7 linked regions of the Homo sapiens genome follow. The protein of the gene in region 7 interacts with the protein of the main gene of each other region in a pairwise test. Each region holds a gene or a part of one and is shown on either strand. Other genes may lie near its edges. The genes, in order: TSPOAP1, REPS1, CCDC78, ABLIM1, SORBS1, SPIN1 and CASS4.

The links.
Region 1: the proteins of CASS4 (region 7) and TSPOAP1 interact in a two-hybrid assay, tested with the Homo sapiens proteins (one large-scale study listed by IntAct).
Region 2: the proteins of CASS4 (region 7) and REPS1 interact in a two-hybrid assay, tested with the Homo sapiens proteins (one large-scale study listed by IntAct).
Region 3: the proteins of CASS4 (region 7) and CCDC78 interact in a two-hybrid assay, tested with the Homo sapiens proteins (one large-scale study listed by IntAct).
Region 4: the proteins of CASS4 (region 7) and ABLIM1 interact in a two-hybrid assay, tested with the Homo sapiens proteins (one large-scale study listed by IntAct).
Region 5: the proteins of CASS4 (region 7) and SORBS1 interact in a two-hybrid assay, tested with the Homo sapiens proteins (one large-scale study listed by IntAct).
Region 6: the proteins of CASS4 (region 7) and SPIN1 interact in a two-hybrid assay, tested with the Homo sapiens proteins (one large-scale study listed by IntAct).

Annotation. Positions count from the first base shown.
Region 1 is NC_000017.11:58,308,296-58,311,795, forward strand, and holds part of TSPOAP1 (peripheral-type benzodiazepine receptor-associated protein 1), read right to left. Parts: intron 3,428-3,500; coding exon 3,276-3,427; intron 2,919-3,275; coding exon 2,541-2,918; intron 2,457-2,540; coding exon 2,217-2,456; intron 1,864-2,216; coding exon 1,672-1,863; intron 1,086-1,671; coding exon 246-1,085; intron 1-245. UniProt on the Homo sapiens protein: Required for synaptic transmission regulation. It probably controls the recruitement of voltage-gated calcium channels to the presynaptic membrane, and modulates neurotransmitter release.
Region 2 is NC_000006.12:138,905,624-138,908,253, reverse strand, and holds part of REPS1 (ralBP1-associated Eps domain-containing protein 1), read left to right. Parts: intron 1-653; coding exon 654-759; intron 760-2,630. UniProt on the Homo sapiens protein: May coordinate the cellular actions of activated EGF receptors and Ral-GTPases.
Region 3 is NC_000016.10:723,644-727,734, forward strand, and holds the start of CCDC78 (coiled-coil domain-containing protein 78), read right to left. Parts: upstream 2,801-4,091; 5' UTR 2,725-2,800; coding exon 2,665-2,724; coding exon of another isoform or gene 2,443-2,664; coding exon 2,323-2,442; exon of another isoform or gene 2,238-2,322; coding exon 2,151-2,237; coding exon of another isoform or gene 1,938-2,150; coding exon 1,770-1,937; intron 1,651-1,769; coding exon 1,594-1,650; coding exon of another isoform or gene 1,503-1,593; coding exon 1,435-1,502; coding exon of another isoform or gene 1,347-1,434; coding exon 1,268-1,346; coding exon of another isoform or gene 1,264-1,267; exon of another isoform or gene 1,164-1,263; coding exon 1,038-1,163; exon of another isoform or gene 867-1,037; coding exon 679-866; intron 563-678; coding exon 463-562; intron 294-462; coding exon 214-293; intron 1-213. Other genes in the region: HAGHL (hydroxyacylglutathione hydrolase-like protein), read left to right, coding at 3,867-3,971. UniProt on the Homo sapiens protein: Component of the deuterosome, a structure that promotes de novo centriole amplification in multiciliated cells that can generate more than 100 centrioles.
Region 4 is NC_000010.11:114,441,776-114,445,275, forward strand, and holds part of ABLIM1 (actin-binding LIM protein 1), read right to left. Parts: intron 2,360-3,500; coding exon 2,254-2,359; intron 12-2,253; coding exon 1-11. UniProt on the Homo sapiens protein: May act as scaffold protein. May play a role in the development of the retina. Has been suggested to play a role in axon guidance.
Region 5 is NC_000010.11:95,411,372-95,414,871, forward strand, and holds part of SORBS1 (sorbin and SH3 domain-containing protein 1), read right to left. Parts: intron 3,492-3,500; coding exon 3,123-3,491; intron 1-3,122. UniProt on the Homo sapiens protein: Plays a role in tyrosine phosphorylation of CBL by linking CBL to the insulin receptor. Required for insulin-stimulated glucose transport. Involved in formation of actin stress fibers and focal adhesions.
Region 6 is NC_000009.12:88,468,444-88,471,943, reverse strand, and holds part of SPIN1 (spindlin-1), read right to left. Parts: coding exon 3,339-3,500; intron 1-3,338. UniProt on the Homo sapiens protein: Chromatin reader that specifically recognizes and binds histone H3 both trimethylated at 'Lys-4' and 'Lys-9' (H3K4me3K9me3) and is involved in piRNA-mediated retrotransposon silencing during spermatogenesis.
Region 7 is NC_000020.11:56,411,092-56,415,059, forward strand, and holds the start of CASS4 (cas scaffolding protein family member 4), read left to right. Parts: upstream 1-1,168; 5' UTR 1,169-1,367; coding exon 1,368-1,403; intron 1,404-3,968. UniProt on the Homo sapiens protein: Docking protein that plays a role in tyrosine kinase-based signaling related to cell adhesion and cell spreading. Regulates PTK2/FAK1 activity, focal adhesion integrity, and cell spreading.

The sequences.
Region 1 (3,500 bases), on a different chromosome or scaffold from region 7:
CGACCCTGCCCACAGGCCGCAACAGGCGACTAGTGATAGAATATTGTGCATCCCAGTCCTGATCAGCAGAAGCAGCAAAGCAGTGGAATGTGGGTGGGAGGAGGCAGGTGAGGGAGCCCGGAGGCCCGGCCCCACCTCTGCTGATGGAGGCAGGCAGCGTGGAATGGGAGCTGCTGGTGGGCAGCAAGCAGGGCCACCAGGTGGCAGCAGGCAGGGGCTGCCCAGGGCGGGGAGTGAGCACGGACCCGGGAGAGTGGCTCCTTGGCTCTGCCCGTCGCACTGCGGCCTCTCCGCTCTGGTTCCCCTTTCTCCCAGGCTGGGAGGCGTGGGTAGGGCTTGGGGCCTGAATTGGCCTTCGGAGGCCCCCTGGGCCTTCCTACAGTTGCTGTGCCCCAGGCCTCCCCATCTCCAGGGTAGCAGGAGCTGGTGATGCTGATGCCCCCGCTGCCCGCCTCCTGCTCATCCTCCGAATCATATTCAATGCTGATTTCCAAGCACTTGGGGGAAAGGCAGCTGGCCAGGCCAGGCTCCAGCGCCCGGCCACGGGAGCACCTCCGGGAAGGGCCCAGCCGGCCTCTCCCGCTAGCCTCTAGTCCAGTCCTGGGGCCCTCAATTACGGGGAGGCCACCCCTCTCCCGTGTGGGGCCCAGTCGTCCAGAGGCCTGGGGCCCATTGTTGCTGAGAAGTCGGCTGCAGTGTTCTCGGGGATCTGGAGGCCGCCTGCGGCTTGGGGGCTTCTCAGGGGAGCCCCCTCCTCTCCTCCGGCTGCTTCCACCAACTAATCCAGGCATGTCTTCCAGGCAGTCTCCAGCCCTGGAGGACTCAGGAGACAAGGGACACTGGCCAGGTCTTCGGGGCTGACCACTGTCACAGCCCAGCCCCAGCAATGCAGGTTCAGGCGGGCCAGGGTCTCGGGAAGAACAGCCTGCCCCTGACTTCTCCTCCTCCTCGTCCTCCTCTTCCTCTTCCTCCTCCTCCGGGATGCTAAAGAGCTTCTTGCTACAGAACTGCTGGAGGGGCAGCTCCAGGATCTGCTCCAAGATCTCCTCATCGCTGTCAGTCTCACAAAAGGGGTCGGGCTGGGACTGGTGGAGGTGGGGAGGTGGGAGTAGAACACAGCAGGGAAGAGAGATGCGTGGGGAAGAGGAGAGCGAGCTGCGATCTTTGCCCTCAAACGAAGGCAGGGGTTACGGACAACCCCACAGCCCTCCCACGGCTTCCTCCGAGAGGAGAGAACCAGAGGGACGGTGGCTGGCCCAAATTCACACACATATCCAGTGAGAGCCAAAGGAAGAATTAGGGAACACACTCTAGGAACCATCACCAGCCCCTGTGGGACAGGAGCATTGAGGAGCAGGCCTCCCCATCCCCTCCCCAGAAGCTACCAGCACAAGGATCTTAGGTGGCACCGGCCTCCCCTGGCCAGGGCGCTGTATCTGGTGGGCTGGAGGGAGAGAAGGTACAGAAATGAACTCCTCCCCTTCCCCTTTCTTTCCAGGAGGGCAGGGGCCAATCCTGGGGCACTTCCTATCTTCTGCTTAGGACAGGGCCCAGGCCACAGACCTAGAATGTTTCTGGCACTCAGTGGTGGTCAGAGCACCTGCTGACACACAGTGGGGAGGCCCCGGAGTTTGAGGCCTGGGGCCCAACAGCCCATCCCTACCCCGTTACCTTGGCCCCATTCTCCCTGATGCTGTTGCCAGCAACCTGCTTCTGGAAGGAGCAAGTCCTGGAACCCAGCTCCTCTTCCTCCTCCTCCTCCTCCTCTTCCTCTTCCTCCTGGATGTCTGACAGGTCTGAGTTGCGGCCGTGGTCCACGAGGGAGTTCACCAGATGAACCCCAAGCTCTGCTGTGTCCTCCTTCTGCAAGAAGTGAGGCAAGGCAGGAGAGATAAGGACAGTGAGGGGGCACAGGGGGTTCCAGGCAGGGTCAGCCCCAGCCACAGTAACAAGGGTCCTTTGGCAGAGGGAGAAAGAGCCATGTCCTAAATGGGGGAGGCACACCATGGCTCAGGGGCAGGGTGGGAGAAGGGAGATGGGAGCCACATGGGACAGAGAAATCCTAGAAGAAAAACAGACACATAGCACAGCCAAAGGTGTGAGAGCAGGACCAGAGCAGAGGACAGGCAGAGAGGGCAACTGGATTTGCGCTGGCAAAAGGTAGGGAGACAGGCCTCAATTCTCTGAAGTGACACAGTGTGTCCCCAAACCCCTACCTCAGCCCTGGGCCTCAGCCCAGACCCTGGGTCTCCTCCTTGGCACATCTCGGTATTTGGCGCCTGCTGGGCCCGTGCTCCCTGGGTGGAGCTGGAGGCCGGACAGGCCTCTCCTGCAGTCCACTCGGCCTCCTGCTTGGCCAGTGAGGGAGCTGCGGGGCCAGGGTCCTTCTCACCCAGGGTAGATGTGCTGGCTGTCCTCTCCTCTGAGGTGCCCAGCACTGCTGCCCCAGCCTCCTCCTGGAACAGAGAGCACTGAGGAAGGACCCAAGCCCAGGTCCCTCTGCCAGCCTGCACCTGCTCCCCTCTCCCCAGACAGGGTACCTGGGAGCAAGGTGCTGGAGGGTCCTCGTGGGACCCTTTTGCCATCTCTCTGGAAGGGCTTGCAGGGGGTGCTCCTGGAGGCTCTTGAGTTCCAAGGGGAGCAGGGTGCTGGAGAGGAGAGCTGGGGTCTCCAGGCCCTGGGGAGGCTGAAGCAAGGGGCGCTCTGGCCTCTGGGCTTGGGTGCGGTGAGGGGCAGGAGACTCGGGCTGGCAGGCTGGCCGGAGCCAGGGCGGGAGTGATAGGAGCCGGGATGGAGTCCGCCGACTCCCCGTGGGGCGACATGGTGCGCACGACCACCTCACGACACACCTGCAGCAGCTGCAGCTGGGACAACTCCACCAGTACACTGCCTGCCGTGGGTGAGGCCACCTCCATGATCTGCAGGGTGGAGGGGGCACAGGATGGGAAGCAGAGGCTGAGACAGCCAAGCGTGAGGATGCACTGACAGCAGTGGCAGCTAACTGACAGCAGTGGCAGCTAGCATTACGCCAGGTACTGTGCTAAGCCCTCTGCATGGCCTATCTCATTTCATCCTCCTGGCCATATGGCTTCAGTGATGGAACAGTTCTAAAATCTGTCATGTGCTGCCAAAGCCCATGCTCTTAACCCATCTGCCTCATGGTACCCAAATGCCAGGGGCTGGGCATCTCCGTGCCAAGCCAGAGAGCCTAGACCTCTGAGCATAGCAAGAAGGGACCCACCCCCACTCCCAGGGTACAGTGGGCAGGGCTATACCTTCTGCCCATCAGCGTAGATGGCATAGCCTGTGACCCGGACACCGTTGGATGTGCCAGCAGCATCGATGGTGACTGGGAGCCAACTGATGATCAAGATCCCAGGGGAGGGCCCAGGCTCGATCTGCACATCCAGAGGGGCATCAGGTGGGCCTGGGGGCAGGGGGGCACAAGACCCAGTGATGCAGGACGCTCCCCATCAGAGATACCTGCCCAATTTGCTATT
Region 2 (2,630 bases), on a different chromosome or scaffold from region 7:
AATTGAGCAGAGCCTCCTCATGTACGGGTAGGTATTCTTCCCATGTTTCCCCCTTTATTAAGTTGAATTCAATGCCATTTTAACACCCTGTTTTCAAACCCCGTAGCAGTACATTTTTTAAACTTGATAGTTTATAGTAAAACTGGTATTTTAATTATGGTGTTCTAGACCAGGAATCAGCAGATTAAGTCTTAATGGGCCAAATTCAGCCTATGGCCTGTTTTTGTATAGCCCATGAGCTAAGAATGACTTTTTCTTTTTTGTAGAAGAGAGAAGAAAAAATAGAAGAGAAAAGAAAACAAAAAACTAGAATATGAGACAGAAACTCTTTGGCCCACAAAGCCTGAAATTATTTACTATCTGGTTTTTTACAGAAAAGGTTTGCCAGTACCTACTTTAGACTCTTTTACTTAAATTCAGGTGATTCTACAGAAGAAGAATTTTTTTAATAATTTCTTTTTTTTTTTTTAACCTTTCCTATAGTGCTGAAGCTTATATACTACTGCAACTGAGCAAGTGAGGTTGAGCTGTGCTAGTAAGGAAAAAGATGCTCTTTTTGCTTCTCATGTTTAGAAATAGATCAGGAAGGAATAGAGAGGATTTAAGATAAGAAATGAAGGTTATGGGTTTTTTTGCCTTCTTTATCTTCTCAGATCTGTTGGGAAAGATAAGAAAGCTATTCAGGCATCAATTAGACGTAATAAGGAAACCAACACCGTTTTGGCCAGATTGAATAGCGAATTGCAGCAACAATTAAAGGTAATATAGTTTCTGAATCTTTATAATGTTCCTTATCTTAGTAAAGAAACCTAAAGAGAAGGAATGTGACCTCAGATACCTCCAAGATCACATATATGGTTCTCTTCTCTAATTTTCTAGATGCTTTGACTGTGGTTAGTTAACCCCTCCCCGCCACACACACACACACACACACACACACTTTTTTTTTTTTTTTTAAAGAGACACGATCTCGCTCTATCACCCTGGCAACCTGGGCTCAAGCTATCCTCCCACTTCAGCCTCCTGAGTAGCTGGGATTACAGGCGTGAGCCACTGCACCCAGGTCCTAGTTTGTCCTTTTATCAAAGACAACTCAGATTCCATTAAAGGGACTTAAACAGGTCTAAAGAAGAAGAGAAGTGGCAGCAATTTCAGTCATCTTGCATGTGGAAAGAGAAAAGGCAAGCCTTAAATAGAAATGCTGCTTATGCAGTGTGTATACTGTCACCTAATACCTGAGAGGAATGTGTTTGTTTTCTAGTAACTATAATTTCTTTGCATCCCTAGAAATAAAAATTACTCTTACTTACTCCTTCTTTATTGAGTCAAAAAAAAAAATTACTCCCAGAATTGCTTATGGTTCCCCAACATTATTAGGTACTCATGTCTTACAAACCAGTGGTTCTCAAACCTTAAGGCATATACAGGTAATCTTGGGTCATGTTAAAATGAAGATTCTGGTTTTTGTAGAGCTAAGGTGGGACCTGGGAATTCTGCATTTCTCCTAAGCTTCCAGGCAGTGGAGATGCTGGAGCACTGTTGGCCCCACTTGGAATAGAACAAAGATGAGATGAGAGTCCATGGAAATGAAAAATGAATGCAGTTAGTTCATTCTCCTAACATTCTGTTCATGCTCCTCATTTAGCATTTATTACACTGTCCTGGAATTATTATCTGTGACACATTTGTCTCTCTGTCCTACTACAGTGAACTCATTGAGGGTAAATCATAATCATTTCTGTTTAGGAAGACCACGTAATATACCATCCAAATCGAGACACTTTTGAGAGGAAAAAAAGAGGGTGGTATTACTATCATTTAGGCCAAGACACTGGGTATAAACTGGGATTGTCCTAGATAAACTTATGACCGTCTTGTCCCTCTCCTCGAAACCTAGTATGTTAGGCATTTTTTAATGTCTGTTGAATGAATGATATAAACTTATGGCCACTTTGTGTCTATCCCCAAAACCTAGATCATATTTTAGGCATTTGATAAACATCTACTGAATGAATGATATTGTTGTATAACTCTATGATCAGAGGAGAAGACATTTGTAGTTATATGATTATTAATTTAGTCCATCGTACAGGAAGAATGAACTTAAAGACAAGCTTAGTAGTATAATACCATGAAGATGAAAATTTTGTTAATGCATGTTTTTCTGAACCAGGGAAGACCATTGAAACAAGTATATAGAAGCTATTTTGAAAAATTACTTTTTTCCTTACTTCTGAGAACAGAAAATGGGAAGTAAGGTACAAAATAGAGGTAGTTCTGGTTAAAACACAATACTGTCAATTTGAAAGAGAAAAATAGGAAAGTAAGTAAGTTAGAATATGGTGGCTAACTGAAAAGACTGCCTAAAATCAACATTGATTAAAAATTCTGAATGCAAAGTTATTCTTTGGGAAACTAAAGCTCAAAATGAGATCTAGGAGTTGATATAGCCAGATGTCATCACTAGGGAAAAGAAGCTACATTAACAAATTCATCTACCAGGGGGCGGGTTTATTGCAAAATTCAGGTGTTAATACCCATTGTTGCAAACAGTGACTTTTCTAAAAACTAGACATTCTATTTCCCTGATTTGTGTAATAAGAAAATGTTTGAAATTACTAGGATCTTAT
Region 3 (4,091 bases), on a different chromosome or scaffold from region 7:
ACCTGCAGCAGCCCCTCTTCTCTTTCCTGTGATTATCAGTGTCGCCGGGACCCACGGAGGGACCCCAGGGTGGGGATGTGCCACTGAGTGCATTGCTGTGACCAGACCCTGTCTGGCGGGGGCTTGGTGGAGCAACTGGGGGCCCCAGGGTGCAGGCGTTGTGCTCTCTGCTCATCCCCCACAGGCCTCCCCCACACCCATGAGGGCACTCACTGTGGCTCTGATGTTCCCCCCTGGGAGGCTCCACCGGGTCTCTTTTTTGGGGATGAGAGCAGTGCCCCAGGCCCGCCGTGCTACAGAGGTTTGTGGTGGGGACGTTTCAGTTGGCTGAACAAGGCAAGCCCCTCAGAGGCCCGGGGCTGAGGTCTCTGTTGAGCCCAGGATGAGGCCTGGGGCCAGTGTGGGGCAGTGGGTGGGTGGGGGGCACCCGGGCCTGGAGCTTCTGGGGGTCTCTAGCCTCACCTGGTCCTCCCGATGGCTGAAGTCAGTGACCAGGGGCACGGGCAATGGTTCCAGGTCCAAGCTGGCTATGTCAAAAATAGCTTGGGGGTTCCCAGGTGCCCTGTCAGGGTAGGCTAGTGTCTGTCTGGGGCCACTCCTGCTGCACACCAAGCCTTTGAGGCACAGAGGCTTAGAGACCCACAGATGCCTGACACCTCCCATCCCAGCGGGGCCCACCTGTAGGCAACCAGTAGCTCTTCATGCCTGCGGCTCAGATCCACCAGCCTCTTGTGGTAGCTGCGGGCAGCCCGGGCCAGCTGCTGCTCACGGCTGCGGTGCGCTGCCCGGATGTCCTCCAGAGTCGCCTCCAGGAATGTCCGGAGGGCCGTGGTGGCTGGCGCTTGGCCTGCACCATCTGCGTGCTCCTGGAGGCGGCGGGCTGGGTCCGCATGGGGCCCACCCCCCATCTTTTCCAACCATCCCCCCACCCCAGCAGGCTGAGCAGTGCCGGGGCCCTGGGGTCTCCCTGAAGCTATCCAGCACACCCAGGCCAGGCTTGGGCTCCCTAGGCCTCAGGGTGCTCCTGCAGGGCTCACCACTGCCTGCCAGGCGCAGTGTTGCAGCCGTAGGACGTACTCATCCTTCAGTTTCTTGAGCTGCAGCTGCAGCCGGGCATTTTCAGCCTCTGCCTGACGGAGCTGGCCTTGGCAGCTGCACAGCACCTGGGGTGGAAGCAGCCCTCCACCTGTGCCCTGAGAGTGGACCCCGGCTGAGCTTCTGGGGCCCCCACCCTCCAGGTCTCCAAGCAGTCAGGGCAGAGCCTCACCACAGCCTGTGTGGCCAGTCGCTGCCCGGCTGCCCTGGCCTCCTCTCGGGCTCCCTGCAGCTGCCGGCCCAGGGTTGCCCTGAAGACACGGGGGTGAGGCTCAGCAGGCCCACGATCAGGGGTTCTCTCTGCTCCAGGATGGGGCCCCAGGTGAGATGGCCACTCACACACGCGTCACCAGTGCCTGCTGCCGGGCCTCCTGATGCTCCAGCGCCCACTTCACTTCCCCCTGCAGCTGTGGGGCACACAGGGCTGGCTGGATGAGACCCTAGGCTTGGGGTCTCTGGTGCTGCCCTCTCCCCTGAGCTAGGTGGCTGCACACTCACGCCGCTCCCCAGCCTGTGCTGCTCATTCTCGGGGTTCATGGTGTTCTTGGGCTGCACCTGAATGGAAGGGAGGGCAGGGAAAGCTAAGGGGTGGGTGAGCCCCAGTTTCACTGAGGCCCCTGCTGAGGCTTCCCTCTGGCCTTTCCCAGCCAGGCTCTCCATATGCTCATGGTAACCTGGAATCTGTGGTCATCAGAGTGTCCAGGCACCTGGGCTTTGTGTCTGAGCTCTTGGGCTGCTGCCCGGGGATGCCTGGGGTCAGACTCCACTGGGACTGCACAGCCCTGGCTGGTGCCATCTCCTCGCAGCTCCAGCTCCAGTACCCGGCTCTCCAGCCGAAGGATCTGTGGGACAACTGGCATGAGCAGGTGCACCTGCCCGCGGGCCACCTGGGGTAGGTGAACATTCACCCGGTGCACGCTCAGGGGCGCGCAGCACTCAGAGGCAGGCTGAGACCCACAGATGCCATGTGCGTGTGCATGCCCATGCAGGGCACGTGTCCTGGGCCTGCACCCCCCGTCCCCCATGCACTGAGGCTGGTTCACACGGCTGCTCACCTCACTCTTCAGCTGGAAGATTTCAGCCTCATGCTGCTCATGTAGGTGGTGGGTTGTGATCTGAATGTCGACCAGCTCCTTGGAGATCTGTGGGTGGCCAGGTGAGAGGTGGCGTCTGTGGGCCCTGCTGGCACCCTCCCTCCTCACGAGCACGCTGGGGCCCCACACCCACCTGCAGCTGCTGCTCCTTATTGAGCGCTAGATCTGGTGGGACCTCTGCTTCCAAGCTGGTGGCCCACACTGCGGTGCCCCCAGGAGCTCCTGGCAGCCAGTCCTTGGCTCGTAGCACAACCTGGGGAGGTACCGCCACCCATTCCCCAGGTGGGTCCCAGGCTGGGCTGTGGCCCCACTCCCATGCAGTCACCAGTCCCGCCTCCCTGCCTGGCTGAGCTGTAAAAGTCCCTCTCCTGGCTGAAATTAGGCCCAGGGTGCAGGAACCTGCACCCTCCTGGCCTTTGGGGGAACGGGCAGACTTCAACCCCATGGCAGGAGCGGCAAGTCCCAGAGGACTCACATTCTCCACCCGCCGAGAGGGAGGTCCAGGCCTGGGGCCTGTGGTGGCTGCGTGCTCCATAGGCTAGGGAACCCTGGCCAGCTCCGAGCCCGGTGCTGCCTCCACGCCCGGCTTCCCCATGGCTGCTGCTGCCACTGGCACTGCTAAGTGCGTTGCCAAGGCCTCTGTTGGTCCCAGGTGACTCCCAGGGCACCGCCCACAGGGGCCGGCCAGACCGGTGGTTGCTGAGGAGGGAGGATAGCTCTTCCTCTCTCCATGCCTCCGTTTCCCCATCTGGGGAATGCGGCCCAGCGCCCCCTGCACATACCCTGTGCAGATGGAACCAGGTGCGTGAAAGCGCCCAGCCTGGGCGCAGCGGACGAGCACGCGGAACGGAGCGGCAGCCCGCCCGCAGGATGCCCTGAGCTACACTCGCTGGACACCTTCTGTGTACCTAGCAGTGCTGGCTGAGCCCCGGGACGGGGGAAGTATATCTCTGCACCTCTGGCCTGAGAAGAGGGGCGCAGACGTCCCCATCAGGGGCCGGAGAACTCGGAAACGACTGGCTCAGCCGGGGCGTCGGGAGGGCTTCCTGGAGGAGGTGCCAGCGCCGGGCGCGGCGGGGTCGGAGCGTGCGCGTGGCGCCCCACCGGGCACGCGCACCGCCGGCGGGCCTTGTGGTCTCATCGCGCGCAGGATCCGGGCCGGGCGGGGGCGGGGGCGGGGCGCGTCCGCGGAGGGGGGCGGTTGGCGGCTCCCGAGCCCAGCGCCGCGCTCAGTCCGGACCCCGTGACCGGCGGCCGAGGCCCCGCCTCCGTCAGTCTGTCCTTCGGGTCCTCAGCACAGCCGTGCCGGTGAGGCGGGCGGCGGGGGAACGCGGCTGTCCCGGGTCAGGGGTCTTGCGGCGGCAGGGCGGGGGGCCGAGGGGCGGGGCCTGGGAGGAAGGCGTGGCCTTTGGGGACTGGGGCTCGGACTGGGGGCGGAGCCGGGGCTGGTTGGGGACCGGCCGGGTTCCGCTCCTGCTGGAGCCCGGTGCGTGGAATTCCACGCGAGTGCCGGGGAGTTCCTGGGGAGCCGGGCTTCTCTTTTGGCCCCCAGCGTGTTGACCGAGCCCGCTTCGCACAGCCCTTCCTAGGGTGTGGAGAGCGGGCCCCGCCCTGAAGGGGCACCGTGGGCTGGGGGGCCTGTTTTGGAGCAGGCACCGGTGGCCGAGCTCCGTGACCATGAAGGTCAAGGTCATCCCCGTGCTCGAGGACAACTACATGTACCTGGTCATCGAGGAGCTCACGCGCGAGGCGGTGGCCGTGGACGTGGCTGTGCCCAAGAGGGTGAGGGCAGGCCGCGGGCCGCAGGGACCCGGCCGTGTCCCCCGAGAGCCTCCCCGACCCCCCTGGTAGGAGCGAGCCCCCACGTGCTCTGCTCTCCGGAAGTCATTGGCGGCTGGGGTT
Region 4 (3,500 bases), on a different chromosome or scaffold from region 7:
AATATGTGAAGCTGAGTAAGAAAAAAGTAAAAAACCAATTGTTAGGAAATCAGAAGGTCCAATCCTTTAATGAAATTGGCAGTATCTTCTACCTCACAGGATAGAAATACCAAAAAAATTCAAATCATATTGGGCTCAAATGTTCAAAAATATGCCATCATATTTGCAAGGAGTGGGTGGACAGTGATATGACTGAGGAGGGAAGGGAAAGTCAAGTCCACGCGGTTGAGTGGGGGCTGAAGCTGGCTGTGCTTCCTATAGCTCTGGCATGGAGCTAAGTGTTCAGCATGCTTTATTTCTTTGAATCTTCAATATAACCCTAATAACACTATGATTATTAGTTCCATATTACAGAAGGAGAAATAGGGGCTAAGAAAAATATCCTGCCAACAGTTACTAAGCTTCTAAACAGCTGAGCAAGGATGTAAATCAGGGATATCTGAATACATTAGCCCATGCCCCAGTTGATAAGGCAGCAGTAACTGAACTGGAAGCCAACCCTGTATGTTATCAAGATCTACCAGCCATCTACAGCTGGCCTCCTGGGAGGCCTGATACAGGGTATCTGTCAATGATATGGAAGCCTGATAAGCTGCTGGGCTTGAGAGGGAGCAGCCCTGGGCTTGAATTCTGGTTCTGCAACTTAATACCTCTGTATCTCCGGACATGGTGTTTAATCTTTCTGAAGTCCTCATTTCTTCATCTATGCAGGTACAATGTTATACATTCTTATAGAGCAGAATCTCAGAATTCCAAGGAACTCTAAAGATTTGTAAACCACCGAATCCAAGATCAATGCCAGTGAGGCATCTATGAAGGGTAGCGGGAATTCCAGGTAAGGGTGTGGGCTCCGGGGTTATAATATGTGGACTTCTAAATCCTAGTCTTGCTAGTTATTGGCGTATCACGCTGGGTATGTTAACTCAATTTCTATACCAGCCTCCTGATTTCTAAAATAGAGATGAAAATGCTGCAGTTGCTAATAACAACCACATCTACTTCACTGGCATGTTGTGAACATTAAATAAAATGTTTAGCAAAAATGCTTGCATGGAGTGAACATTAAATGCATTTTTTTTTTTTGAGACAGAGTCTCACTCTCACCCAGGCTGGAGTGCAGTGGCGCAATCTTGGCTCAATGTAAGCTCAGCTTTCTGGGTTCACGCCATTCTCCTGCCTCAGCCTCCCGAGTAGCCGGGACTGCAGGAGCCCGCCACCACACCTGGCTGATTTTTGTATTTTTTAGTAGAGACGGGGTTTCACTGTGTTAGCCAGGATGGTCTCGATCTCCTGACCTTGTGATCTGCCCGCCTTGGTCTCCCCACTAAATGCATTTTTAAAGGAACTCTTAGAGGAGAAAATTATGCTCTAGCTCAGAATATGAGAGAAGAAATCTTGTGGTTTAAGAGAGAATTGGCTTATGACAAATAGATACAGGGGAAAATACACTGATAGGCTATTTCAGCCCAGTGTATAAGTCATCTTCTTCAAAAGTATCAAAAACACTGTTCATCCTCAGTTCTTGTATTGAAGATTTTTTTTCTTTTTTTTTTTGAGATGGAGTTTCACTCTTGTCGCCCAGGCTGGAGTGCAATGGTGTGATCTCAGCTCACTGCAACCTCCACCTCCCAGGTTCAAGTGATTCTCCTGCCTCAGCCTCCCGAGTAGCTGGGATTACAGGAGCCCACCACCACGCCTGGCTAATGTCTGTATTTTTAGTATAGATGGGGTTTCGCCACGTTGACCAGGCTGGTCTCAAACTCCTGACCTCAGGTGATCCGCCTGCCTTGGCCTCCCAAAGTGCTGGGATTACAGGCATGAGCCACCGCACCCGGCCTCTATTGAAGATATTAATGTAAAATCATAATGCTTAGAAAATGTCTTATTCATGTTATCTAAAAAAAAAAAAAAAAAAAAAGAAGAAGAAGAAAAGCATCATGTTTTTTAGAGGATTTCCTTTTGCTGCTTCCCTTGGAGATGAGTGTTCTAGAAGACAAACCTAGTATATGGGGATTGGCCTTCATGGATTTTGAGAACCTCCAAGGGTTCACCCATTTCCAGAAGAAAGGAAACACACATTTATGGAAGACCCATGACATGCTTATGAGCTCATTTGACATGGAGTGGGTTTCCCACACTTCCTTTCCCGTGGAATACTCTGTAGGTTCCACCACAAGTGAACAGTCAAGGCAGGTGCCTTACAAGCAGGTGGCTGGCTCTCGAATCAGGGAAGGTTGGGGGTTTGCTGCTTACCTGAGTTGATGGGAGAATCGTAGCGACTGGCTAACAGAGATGACCTTTCCCGGCTCTCTTTCTCCATCTCTTCTTTCAAGATCAACTGTCCCAGGCCTGAGTTAAGCTATTCACAGAAAAAAGGAAAAAAAAAAAAAAAAGAAAGCAAAGCTTGCAATTACTTTCATGGAGCTGCAGTTTCTTTGTAGCAGATCCCACAAGAAGTTTCTCTTGCTGGAGGGCCTGAATGCATGTGGCCCCAGAGCCTGGTAGTTCCTGAAGAGGTAGGTCAAGTTTGGGACCCTAAACCCTCTTAGCCCTTTCAGTTTCAAAGCTCCATTTCCCTAAGTCAGGCTCTGTGTTAGAAGAACGTTTTCCTTCCTCTGCTTTCCCTAAAGAGCCAGGAGACCTCAGAAGGCATGTGTGAGTGTGTGTGGATTTTTGATGTGGGAAGGGAAGACTGGGGCTGGTATCCTTTAAAAAGAAATTGCCTTGATTTGTTTAAAAACAAGAAATAAAGGTAATACATGCTAATTTTACAGATTTTGGAAAATCTAGAAGAAAAGAAGAGTAACCCATAATATGTCACTCAGAAATAACACTATCTTTTGATTTATATCTATCTAGTATTTTTGTATACACACATATAAAACTGAGATCATACTATAAATGCAACTTTGTATCCTTTGACTAATATCACGTGCATTTCCTATATGCTTAGAAAACATCATTTGAAAGGATTCAGCAGCCTCTTGACTGATAACAGACTGTCCTTCTGGGCTGCTGCAGGCCCTTGCTACAGGAAGGAGGGTATGAAGAGGACCCCTTCATGGTGGCCATTCCTTTCATTCCTTTTCTCCTGGCCCACATCCTGGGAAAAGACTTGGAGAAATGTTCAATCCCACAGTCATTCCTTCAGCAGAACTGCATGAGGGAAGGAAGGTGTGGCACTACCTGGGTGGATACCACCTTGCTCTGCCTGGCCCTCCAGCAGCCTTTCAACACATGCACTGCACACATGCCCCCATGTGGTCTCTCTTTCCTTCCCACAACAACCCAAACCTTCCACACCCCTCTGACCTCCAGCACCAATGCCATCTCCTCTAGAGCCCAGCAGGTATTCTGCCATATTCTAGTTACTATTAACAGACACCTGTCTTGCCTTGCCTGCCAGATTTCAAGCCCCTTGAAGACTGGGACCACCTCTTGCCTATCTAGATGGTTTATACATAGTAGTCATTCAAAAAATATAGATCTTATGTAACTAG
Region 5 (3,500 bases), on a different chromosome or scaffold from region 7:
AAGTGACAAAGATCCCTAAGACTTGTGAGAATCCTGACTTTAAAAACCTGAGGTCTCTGCCAGAAATACCAATAAAATTATTAATACTAACATTATAATCTGCATATTGGGGATAATGCCAGTCTTTTAAAACAAAATAAGACCCCAAAAGGTACTAAGAATATTTAGACAGTTTCCTTCATGATATCTATACATTTCTATTTTTGAGTTTATAAACCATAAATTGAGGATGCTCTTCTTAAAAGGCTTTAAGAACAAGATTTTAAATAGTTACTTTTGAGGCAATAATTATCTTGAAGCAATAATCAAAGATCAACTCCTGTGAACGTACCCACAAGATGAGGGCCACCCCCTCACTCACACCTAGCCCAATGCCCTGCAGATAGCAGGTGCTAGTAAATGTCACGTGACTGACAGGTGGGATCTTTCAGCAATGTTGTGTCTGAGCAAATGTTTGTAGCAAGAAAACAAATGCTTATCAAAAGAGGATATGGGCATCAGCACCCAGGACAGCTCCCAACACACAGTAGGAACTTCACAACACTGCCTAGGTCAGTCTATCTCTTCTGAAAGTCCACTAAATAGCCGCCGCTATTTAGTTATGAGGGGCAGCTCAATGTCATGAATAAAACCTTTTCTCAAGACTTGAGAAGCACAGTATGATTTTATACAAAAGTGCCTCACCTTGATTCCTCCATTTAGAAAGTGAAAAATAACTACACTTTTCCTAATTTATCTCCAAAGTGATATAATTATGATAAATGACATATCATTAAAAACTGCCTGAATGCATCCAAGAAACACAAAATATCAGGCATACAGCTCTTTAAAGTATAAATGCCTAATGTGATGTTTGGGTGGATCATATGAGCATTAAGCACTTTACAGATTTTATTTTGTGTCTTATTTCTGGAACATCACAAAAACAGCTATTGATTAAAATAACTCAAATCAATTAACATGACTTTTATTCTTCCTTCTTTCTCTCAACTAGCTACAGATGGAGCAGGCATCAGCTCACAGCTCAGACACCATCCACAGAGGCTCCTCCTCTTGACAGAGGAGGAAGAGGAATCCAAGTAGTTTCCTTTTTCACCTCTGTTACCCAGGGCCAAACCCGAAGCTATCAGGCCAAACTGAGGTCCTTCTGGGAGGTCTACACCAGGCTGATTAGTCAGGTTTGAGAAACTGAGGACCCTGTCCCAACGAATCTGTCCTGGTACACCTAAAACCAACTCGATATGAAAACCTAGGTCTACACAAATAAATTATAGAATACACAATCAAACTACTCACAATGGTCTATGAGGACACTAAACATAAGACACCTTACCTGCTACTCCAGGCAAACATAATCTGTGTCAAAGGGAAGATGCTTGAACTCCCCAAAACAAGAGTGGCTTCTAAATTCTAAGTTCAGCTGAAGGTAGACGGGAATAGACCAGGGAAACATCTAGCATTTTTCTTCAATGGGACTGAGCTGCGAAATTCAAAGCTAGAAGGATATCCAAGGCCGTGGGTCACATTGGGCCTGGTGCTGACCTAACTACACTGCACAGCACTAGAGATTTCAGAACAGGCCCCAGCTCAGGATGTAACGGTTCCCAGCTTTGATGTGTTTGATGCCTCATTATAATTTATCTAATAAGCCAAATGAAAAGTTTCCTTCCTGATTTCTGCATGACTGGCTTCAGCTTAACAAGCCATTTGGAACAGTTTTGCAGGCATACATCTTTACACAAAGGGATGTCAGTAAACGCTTAGTTCCATCAGCCAATTGCATGACCCACTACATGACTGTATCTCAAAATGTAGGGTGTGGACCCCAGCATCTGAAACCCCTGAGCACTTGCTACCAAGTGAGATTCCTAGGCTCTTCTCCAGACCCACTCAGTCAGAAATTCTAGGAGTATAACCTGAGGGTGACGATTTAAACAAGCCTCCCTGACCCTCAGATGATCCCATGTACACAAAGCTTGAGAAGTGACCTCCTACTCCAAAAATCCCTTTGAGAACAAGACCCTGACTCATGGTTGTACCCAGGGTACTTAGCAGAATGCCTAGACCACGGCAGAAACTCAATGATGAATTGTTAACTAACCAGTTACTTGCTTTTGAGTGACCCTGGCCCTCATTTGCCAGGGTAAGTCCTCAGCAACATAGCTAACATTCACTAGGCACCTTCTCTATGTCAAGCTCCATAACAGGAACTTTTACACTCGATCCTACTGAACCCGAAGCCCTGTGAGTAGATTCACGTATTCCCATATTACAACTCGCAATGAAGTTATCAGATTCTCTCAATTCCCAGGGCTCCTAAGGAAAAAGGAGACCCAAGCACTTTGACTCAGCTTTTTCTCTAAGCAGTTGGGCTTTCCCGGCTGTGATGGGAACTCATTCCCCCACCCACAGGATGGGACCTGAGGCAGCAGGGCCCTTTGACTTCCTGTGACCACTGGGGCACTGTTTTGTCACAGAGGCTCCTGGGACCTTCTCCTCAGGGGCCCTAGCAATTGCCTGCCTTTTGAGGTAAAAGTCCTAACATTTGTACAGGGCTTTCAGACCCACTTGCTCACTTAAACCCAACTCTCTCACAAAAAAAAAAAAAAAAAAAAAAAAAAAAAAAAAATCCTAGTCTCTGTCATTTCTGTATACTACAGAGAGTTTATTTACTCACTAGGTCAACAAGAGAATCAGAGAATCGCTTCCTCCCCGAGATCTCCCCGCTCCCTGGTAAGTAGCACCCACCACGCCTGCCGTTGCTTTCCCCCATAATTCTTAGCTTTCCTCAGCTCACCACACGACCCCCGACCTGGCCTGTGAAAAGCATGGCCAGTCAACATAAAGGCCACAGATGTTGTCTTCTGAGGGAGAAAGATGTGCATTCCCAACAGGACAGAGCAGATGAGGCACTGCAGAGATGGGGAACAGCCCCGAGAGACCCAGGGAAGACACACGGGAAGCATGCACGCTAGTGACAGGGGACACGGCTCCAGTCATCACACAGGCACAGCGGCAGCCAGTGCTGTCCTCAGAGCTCAGTGCTTCAGTGAGAAAGGGAATGTGACTGCTGGGAGGAGACATTCAGAAAAGCCGTGAGGAGGGGAGTCCAGCAAGCTTACGGTACTCGAAACAGCTCCCGTGAGGTCAGGCTCCGAGACTCTGCGGAGGTCCTCCGGGGCAGGAGGGACCAGCGGAGGTGGTGGTGAGAAGGATGGTGGCGTCTGGCTAATGGGGGCAAAGGAGCCAGAGGCGCGGGCTGGCTGGCTGTGGTGGGGCCACCTCTGCAGATGAGGGGGAATGAAATCATCTAGAGTCGGGAAGGTCAGAGGTGAGGCGGCAGAGGCAGTCGCTGGGATTGTGGGGACGCAGCCAAGAGGCCCCAGAGGTGTTGGAGGTCTGGCAGTGCCTTCTTGCCCTCTGTCAGTATTAACCAGGTAGAGAGGGACAACTATTACCTCCGGCTGGGCTGCACTGGAGGAAGTGGCATCCTGTGGAAA
Region 6 (3,500 bases), on a different chromosome or scaffold from region 7:
GCCTGTAATCCCAGTTCCTTGGGAGGCGGAGGTTGCAATGAGCCGAGATCGTGCCACTATACTCCAGCCTGAGCAACAGAGTGCGACTGTCTCAAAAAAAGGAGGAAAAAAAAAAGCAGGACTCAAACTTCTTGATCTCAAAATTTACCACAAAGCAATGTAATCAAGACAATGCAGCACTGGCACAGCAACAGACATACAAACTAATGCAACAGAATTGAGAGTCCAGAAACACACCCACGTATCTGTGGTCAACTGATTTTCTTTTTTTTTTTTTTTTTTTTTTTTTGAGACAGAGTCTCGCTCTGTTGCCCAGGCTGGAGTGCAATGGTGCGGTCTTGGCTCACTGCAACATCCACTTCCCAGGTTCAAGCGATTCTCCTGCCTCAGCCTCCCGAGTAGCTGGGATTACAGGTGCCTGCCACCACACCTGGCTAATTTTTAGTAGAGACAGGGTTTCCCCGTGCTGCCCAGGCTGGTCTCGAACTCCTGACCTCGTGATCCACCCGCCTTGGCCTCCCAAAGTACTGGGATTACAGGTGTGAGCCACCGCGCAACAAGGATGCCAAAACCATTCAATGGGGGAAAGAATAGTCTTTTCAAAATATGGTGCTTGGACAACTAGATAGGCAGTCACAAGCAAAAAAAAATGAAGTTGGACCCTTAACTTGAACCACAAACAAAAATTAACTTGAAAATGCATCAAAGATCTCTAAGTAAGAGCTATAATTATAAAACTCTTATAAGAAAACGAGGGTAAATCTTTATGACCTCAGATTTGGCAAAAGATTCTTAGGACACAAAAAGCATACTCAGCAAGAGAAAACATAACTCGGACTTCAGAGTTTAAAACTTTTGTGCAAAGATCATCATCAAGAAAGTAAAAACAGCCCATGGAATAGGAGAAAACATTTGCAACATATATCTGATAAAGGTCTTGTATTTAAAAAATTGTCACAATGCAATAATGAAAGACAGATAATTCAATTTAAAAATAGGCAGGGGATATGAATAGACATTTCACCACAGATGATATTAAAAGGGCCAATAGGCCGGGCATGGTGGCTCATGTCTGTAATCCCGGCCCTTTGGGAGGCCAAGGCAGGTGGATCCTTTGAGGTCAGGAGTTCAAGAGGAGCCCGGCCAATATGGTGAAACCCCATCTCCACTAAAAATACAAAAATTAGAAGACATGGTGGCACGCGCCTATAGTCCCAGCTACTGGGGAGGCTGAGGCAGGAGAATGGCTTGAACCCAGTAGGCGGAGGCTGCAGTAAGCTGAGATCACGCCAATGCACTCCAGCCTGGGCGACAGAGCAAGACTCTGTCTCAAAAAAAAAAAGGGGGGGGGCCAATAAGCATATGAAAGATGCTTAACATCATTACTCATCAGGGAAATGCAAATCAAAGCCACAATGAGATACCACTTCACATCCACTAGGATGGCCAGAATCAAAGTAACAGTAACAGTTGGTGAGAATGTGGAGAAATCAGAAGTCTCATACACTGCTGTTGGAAATGTAAAGTGGTATTTCCGTTTTTAAAATTAGCCTGGCAGTTCCCCCAAACGATTAAACATAGAGTTACCATTATGACCCAGCAACTCCACTCCTAGGTATATACCCAAAGGAAATAAAACATGTCCACACAGAAACTTGTACAAAAATGTTTACAGCAGCATTATTCATAATAACCAAGAGGTGGGGAAACAACTCAGATGTGCTTTACTGGATGAATGGCTAATCAAAATGTAGTATATCCATACAATGGAATCGTATTTGGCCATTAAAAGGAATGAAGTACTGATATATGCTACAGCGTGAATGAAATCTCAAAATATGCTAAGGGAAAGAAGCTAGCACAAAGGACCTCACACCATATAGTCCATTCATATGAATGTCCACAACAGGGAAATTTACACAGCAAGTATTACTGGTTGCTTAAGGCCAGGGGGTTCGAAGAATAAAGGACTGACAGCTAACAGATACAAAGTTTTCTTTTGAGGTGATGACAATGTTCTAAAATCGACTGTGGTGAGGACTGTACATATCTGTGCGTATATTAAAAAGTACAGAAATGCACATTTTAAATGGACTAACTATATGGACTAACATGGTCGTAATGGCTCACACCTGTAATCCTAACACTTGTGGGAGGCCAAGGCTGGTGGACTACCTGAGCTCAAGTGTTTGAGACCACCTTGGCCAACATGGTGAAACCCCATCTCTAAAATATAAAACAAAACAAACAAACAAACAAAAATTAACCAGGTGTGGCGGTGGGTGCCTGCAGTCCCAGCCACTTGGGAGGCTGGGGCAGAAGACTCGCTTGAGCGTGGGAGGCGGAGGTTGCAGTGAGCCAAGACCACACCATTACACTCCAGCCCAGCCTGAGCAACAGAGCAAGACTCTGTCCAAAAACAAAAACCACAATAAAGGTTTTCTAGGCCTAATGAAATTAGCCCAGGTCACATCCTCTTCTACCTTACCTGTGTGAACAGACTAGTTGTGGAAATAGCTAAATCACCTGTCTAAACACTGACTCTGTACTCCACTTGCTACTGAAAAGTTAGCAGTCAATCGTTTTCTGAAATTGATGTTCTCTAAATCAGGAGTCCCAGACACCTGGGGCCACGCCGCACAGCAGGAGGTGAGCAGCGGCAAAGAGAGCACTGCCGTCTGAGCTCTGCCTCCTGTCAGATCAGCAGAGGCATCAGATTCTCACAGGAGCACAAACCTTATTGTGAACTACGCATGTGAAGAATCTAAGTTGTGTGTTCCTTATGGGAATCTAATGCCTCCAAAACCACCATATCCACACCCAACCCCCAATCCACAGAAAACTGTCTTCCATGAAACTGGTCCCCGGTGACAAAAAGGCTGAAGATCGCTGCTCTGAAGTTCAAGTATTTACAGATGAAATAATCAATGTCTTGGGATTAGATTCAAAATAATTGCACTGGGGGGACTAACAGATAAAACTAGACAGGCGATGAGATAACTGTTAAAGCTGAGCAGGGTACACGGGGACGTATTTTACTGATCCCTATTCCATCATGTTTTTAAATAAAAGCAAGAAGTAATATGTAGTAGTGTTAATAATTATAAAACAACTTGTATCTTATTACAGAAGCCAAGCAGAACTGACTATCAAATATTTTCTTATCTAACATTTATAACAACTGGATGAAAAATTTCAAAGGCTGTGTTTGTGCATGACTAAAAGAATCATATATCCAAAAATAAAAATGTATCTGCAAAAGAGCCAATCAAATATCTTGTACTGAAGTCCAAATCCCTTCTAATTATCACATATAAAAGTTGCCAATATATACTTACTGGAATCAGGCATAATGCGAAGGTCGCCTTCTTTGTAATCATCTAAGAGTTGGTACATGTACAAGACAGGGTCTTTCTCATAGGTAATGTAAAACCATGTGTTCATGACAGGTGCACGTGCTAAGACCATTCCCCTCCACTCATCTTTAGAACCATCCTCTG
Region 7 (3,968 bases):
GAACTTGCCTCAGAGGTGTGGTAAAAGAAAAGAAAATTTAAAAATAAAAAATTAAAAAATGCTGTCTGACAAGAAGATAGCGGTAAGCTATCCCCCACAGCTGGTTGGGGATAGAACTTGAGCCTGGCTTGGAAGAATGGGCACCATTTTGTCTAAATAAAAATGCAGGCCGGGGCCAGGCGTTGTGGCTCACGCCTGTAATCCCAGCATTTTGAGAGGCTGAGGTGGGTGGATCACTTGAGGTCAGGAGTTTGAGACCAGCCTGGCCAACATGGTGAAGTCCTGTCTCTACTGAAAATACAAAAATTAGCCAGGCGTGGTGGCGGGTGCCTGTAATCCCAGCTGCTCTGGAGGCTGAGGCAGGAGAATCACTTGAACCCGGGAGGTGGAGGTTGCAGTGAGCCGAGATTGCGCCACTGCGCTCCCACCTGAGTGACAGAGAAAGACTCCGTCTCAAAAAAAAAAAAAAATGCAGACTTATTTTGCTCAGTGTCTGCTATGCTGTAGGTCCTCTCTAGAGATTGGATCTGAATTTAGGAAAAGTAAAAAGAGTTGGCAAGTGATGATAAACTGCATGAGCTAGCAGGGGTTTCAAGTACAACACACACGATAAGTTTATTTGATTTAAGAGAGAGAATACAGGTGCGGGGCTCAGCATAGCCCTCAGTGCAGAGCCAGTACCCAGAAGATGTTATTCATTAGGTACCATGAGCAAAGACCAGGAGATGAGCATGGGGTTCCGAGCAGGGTGAATGCACAACTGACAGGGTGGGTAGAGTGGAGACTGTGTCCTTTAAGGCAGCCTGTTTGACTGCTTTTATCCTGGCTGTCATAAGGCAAGTTTTAGGGAGCAGGAAGGAAGAAATGCTGACCGCTATCAGAAATTTGGCCTAGTGGCCTCTCATCAGGGAAATGAGCTTGGTCTGTTCGGTTGGAGTTGTTCCACAGAGTTCAAAGGACAAGAATGCTGTGTGTTCATACACTGAGCTCTTCGAAGTAGGAACTTCGCCCTATAAAGCAGAAGAGTGGTGTTTTTTTCTTCTTCTTCTTCTTTTGTGGTTTCACATAGCAAATGAGTGACAGTCTCTACTTACAGACAAAGTGAGACGTCAGGCATTGAGACGTGAGTGTGGCTTGTATTTCTGGTCCTCCCCTGCTTCACTGCTTTCATTTTACTCTTATCGTGCTTTCCAGAAAGTTTGCCTGCTGGGAGAGTCTTTTTGATCGTTTCCCATGTGTTGTCAGATAGCTCCATAGAATTCAGTTTCTGAGAACCAGCCAGAAGCATGCAGTGACATTGCACAATCTGCCTCTGAAGCTGGAGATACTAGCTGCAGAGCTCAGGGGAGCTGCTCCACATCACCGACATGAAGGGAACAGGCATCATGGACTGTGCGCCCAAGGTGAGTGATGTGGGGCTGTTTGAATGGGCTCTGGCGGGGAGCAAGCTGTGATGATTAAGGGTGTTGACCAGCTTTAGTTGTGACTTTCTAATAAAGGTTGAATACCAGTGACGTGTGAGTTGGAGATGGGAAAGTTTAACATAAGTTTAAGTGTGGGAAATAGATGTGTTGTAAAGCTCCTTACCAGTTTGCATCCAAGATGGGTGAAAATGACTTTGTAGTAGAAATCAGCTTACTTGGTTGACAGCGCCGTCCATCATTTTGCGTCCAGCAAACTCCTGAAGCAAGATGCGAGTCTGCCTCAGCCCCCGCTAATTCCTTCTTTCTCTGGACCCCAAAGACACTCAGTGCCACTCTAACTGTCCTATTTGGTTTCTGTGCTCACCTCCCAACAGCAGAGCCCAGACCCTTGCCTGCAGCCTCCCGTGCTGAGCCCACAGTGGGCACTTACATGTTATTTTCATGTTAACTTGTGCATTATGTGAGCAAAGCTGGAGCTTTCAGACAGACTTCATGCCTGTCATGAATCAAAAAAGATTCACTATTTAGAAAGGTGAAAGAAGCCAGGCACGGTGGTACATACCTGTACTCCAGCTACCGGAGAGGCTGAGGTGAGAAGATTAATTCAGCCCAGAAGTTTGAGTCCAGCCTGGGCAACATAGCGAGACCCCATCTTAAAAAAAAAAAAAAGAAAAGAAAAGTTAAAATGGCTACCATATTAAAAAAAAATTTACCCAGACATAAAGAAAGTGAAGCTCAAGGTTGTGTTTTCATCTTGCTATGCCCTTTTTAAATTTTAAGTAGAACAGGAAAAAAGAAATGAAACAAGCAGTAAATGGGGAGCTTGCTTATAAAAATCAATGCTTATTTTTCATTATAATAAAAGTGACTAGTGTGGCTGTCTGCGGTGGCTCACACCTGTAATCCCAGCACTTTGGGAGGCCAAGGCAGGTGGATCACTTGAGGCCAGGAGTTTGAGACCAGCCTGATCAACATGAAAAAACCCCATATCTACCAAAAATACAACAATTAGCTGAGCGTGGTGGCGCATGCCCGTGATCCCAGCTACTCGGGAGGCTGAGGCACAAGAATCGCTTGAGCCTGGGAGGCAGAGGTTGCAGTGAGCTGAGATTATACCACTGCATTCCGGCCTGGGTGACAGAGCAAGACTCTGTCTCAAAAAAAAAAAAAAAAAAAAAAAAAAAGTCACTAGTGGAATTTGTGACTGAGTAACCCATGACAGTCTCTCTTGTATAGATTATATGTAAATATCTTAGCTACCCTAGAATTTTGTCCCCAACTACTTACTTTGAAAAATTTCAAACCATTGGAAAAATATGGGAAGCGTGGGGGTTATTCAGTAAATCCCTGCATATCCTTCACCTAGATCATTGGTTTCTGGTACTTTGTCATATTTGTGTGCATTTATTTGTGTATATTTAGACACTGGAACACACTTCATTTTTATTGTTGTTGTTAAACTCTTTGAAAATAAATGGCCAATACAATGACGCTCCACCCCTAAACTTCATTATGTGTCTCCTAAGAACAAGGACATTCATCTACAGAACGTAGAAGAATATCTACATATCATCATACCCAAGAACATTTCACATTTATTTAATAATGCCTTTCTACTATTCAGTCTAATTCACGTTGATTTAATAATGCCATTCTACTATTCAGTCCACATTCACATTTTCCAAAATTATCCTTTTTAGCTTTTCTGGCTGTTGTTGTTTGTGTGTGTGTTTGTCTTTCTGATCCAGGTGGTGTTTGTCAATTCTCAGTTCTTAATCTAGAACAATCTACTACCTTTTTCTCTTTCATAACATTGACCTTTTTTCTAAACAGCCTAGATTTTTTATGATTTAGACTTCTTTTTATGTACTGCTTATTCTGCCTAAATAATTTATGTAGCGCTTTACAATTGGGTGGGGTTTTGTTATTTAAAAAAAATATTTTTAGCAATGGGGGTATCACTCTGTTGTCCAAGCTGGACTCAAATTCCTGAACTCAGGTGATTCTTCTGCCTCAGCCTCCCAAGTACAGGATTACAGGTGCACACCACCGAGCCCCACTGCAATTTGTAAATAACATGCATGTTTGCATAGAACATATAATTGATATTCCCAGCATCCCCATGAAATTCTGCTATTAATATTATACAGATAGGCCGGGAGCGGTGGCTCATGCCTGTAATCCCACCACTTTCAGAGGCTGAAGCGTGTGGATCACCTGAGGTCAGGGGATTAGCCTGGCCAAAATGGTGAAACCCCATCTCTAGTAAAAATACAAAAAAATTAGCTGGGCATAGTGGTGCACGTCTGTATTCCCAGCTACTCGGGAGGCTGAGGCAGGAGAATTGCTTTATATATATATATAAATAGTAGCCAACCCTTACCGATTGTCTACATGTGAGGCCCTGTGCTGAGTGCTCTACTTGCATTTTCTCACTATTACATCCTCACAACATCCTCATGAAGCAGAGGTATTATTCCCCTGTCACAGACGAGGAAACGAGGCCTCGCTGACTTGCCCAAGGCCATACAGCTAGTAGGTGGC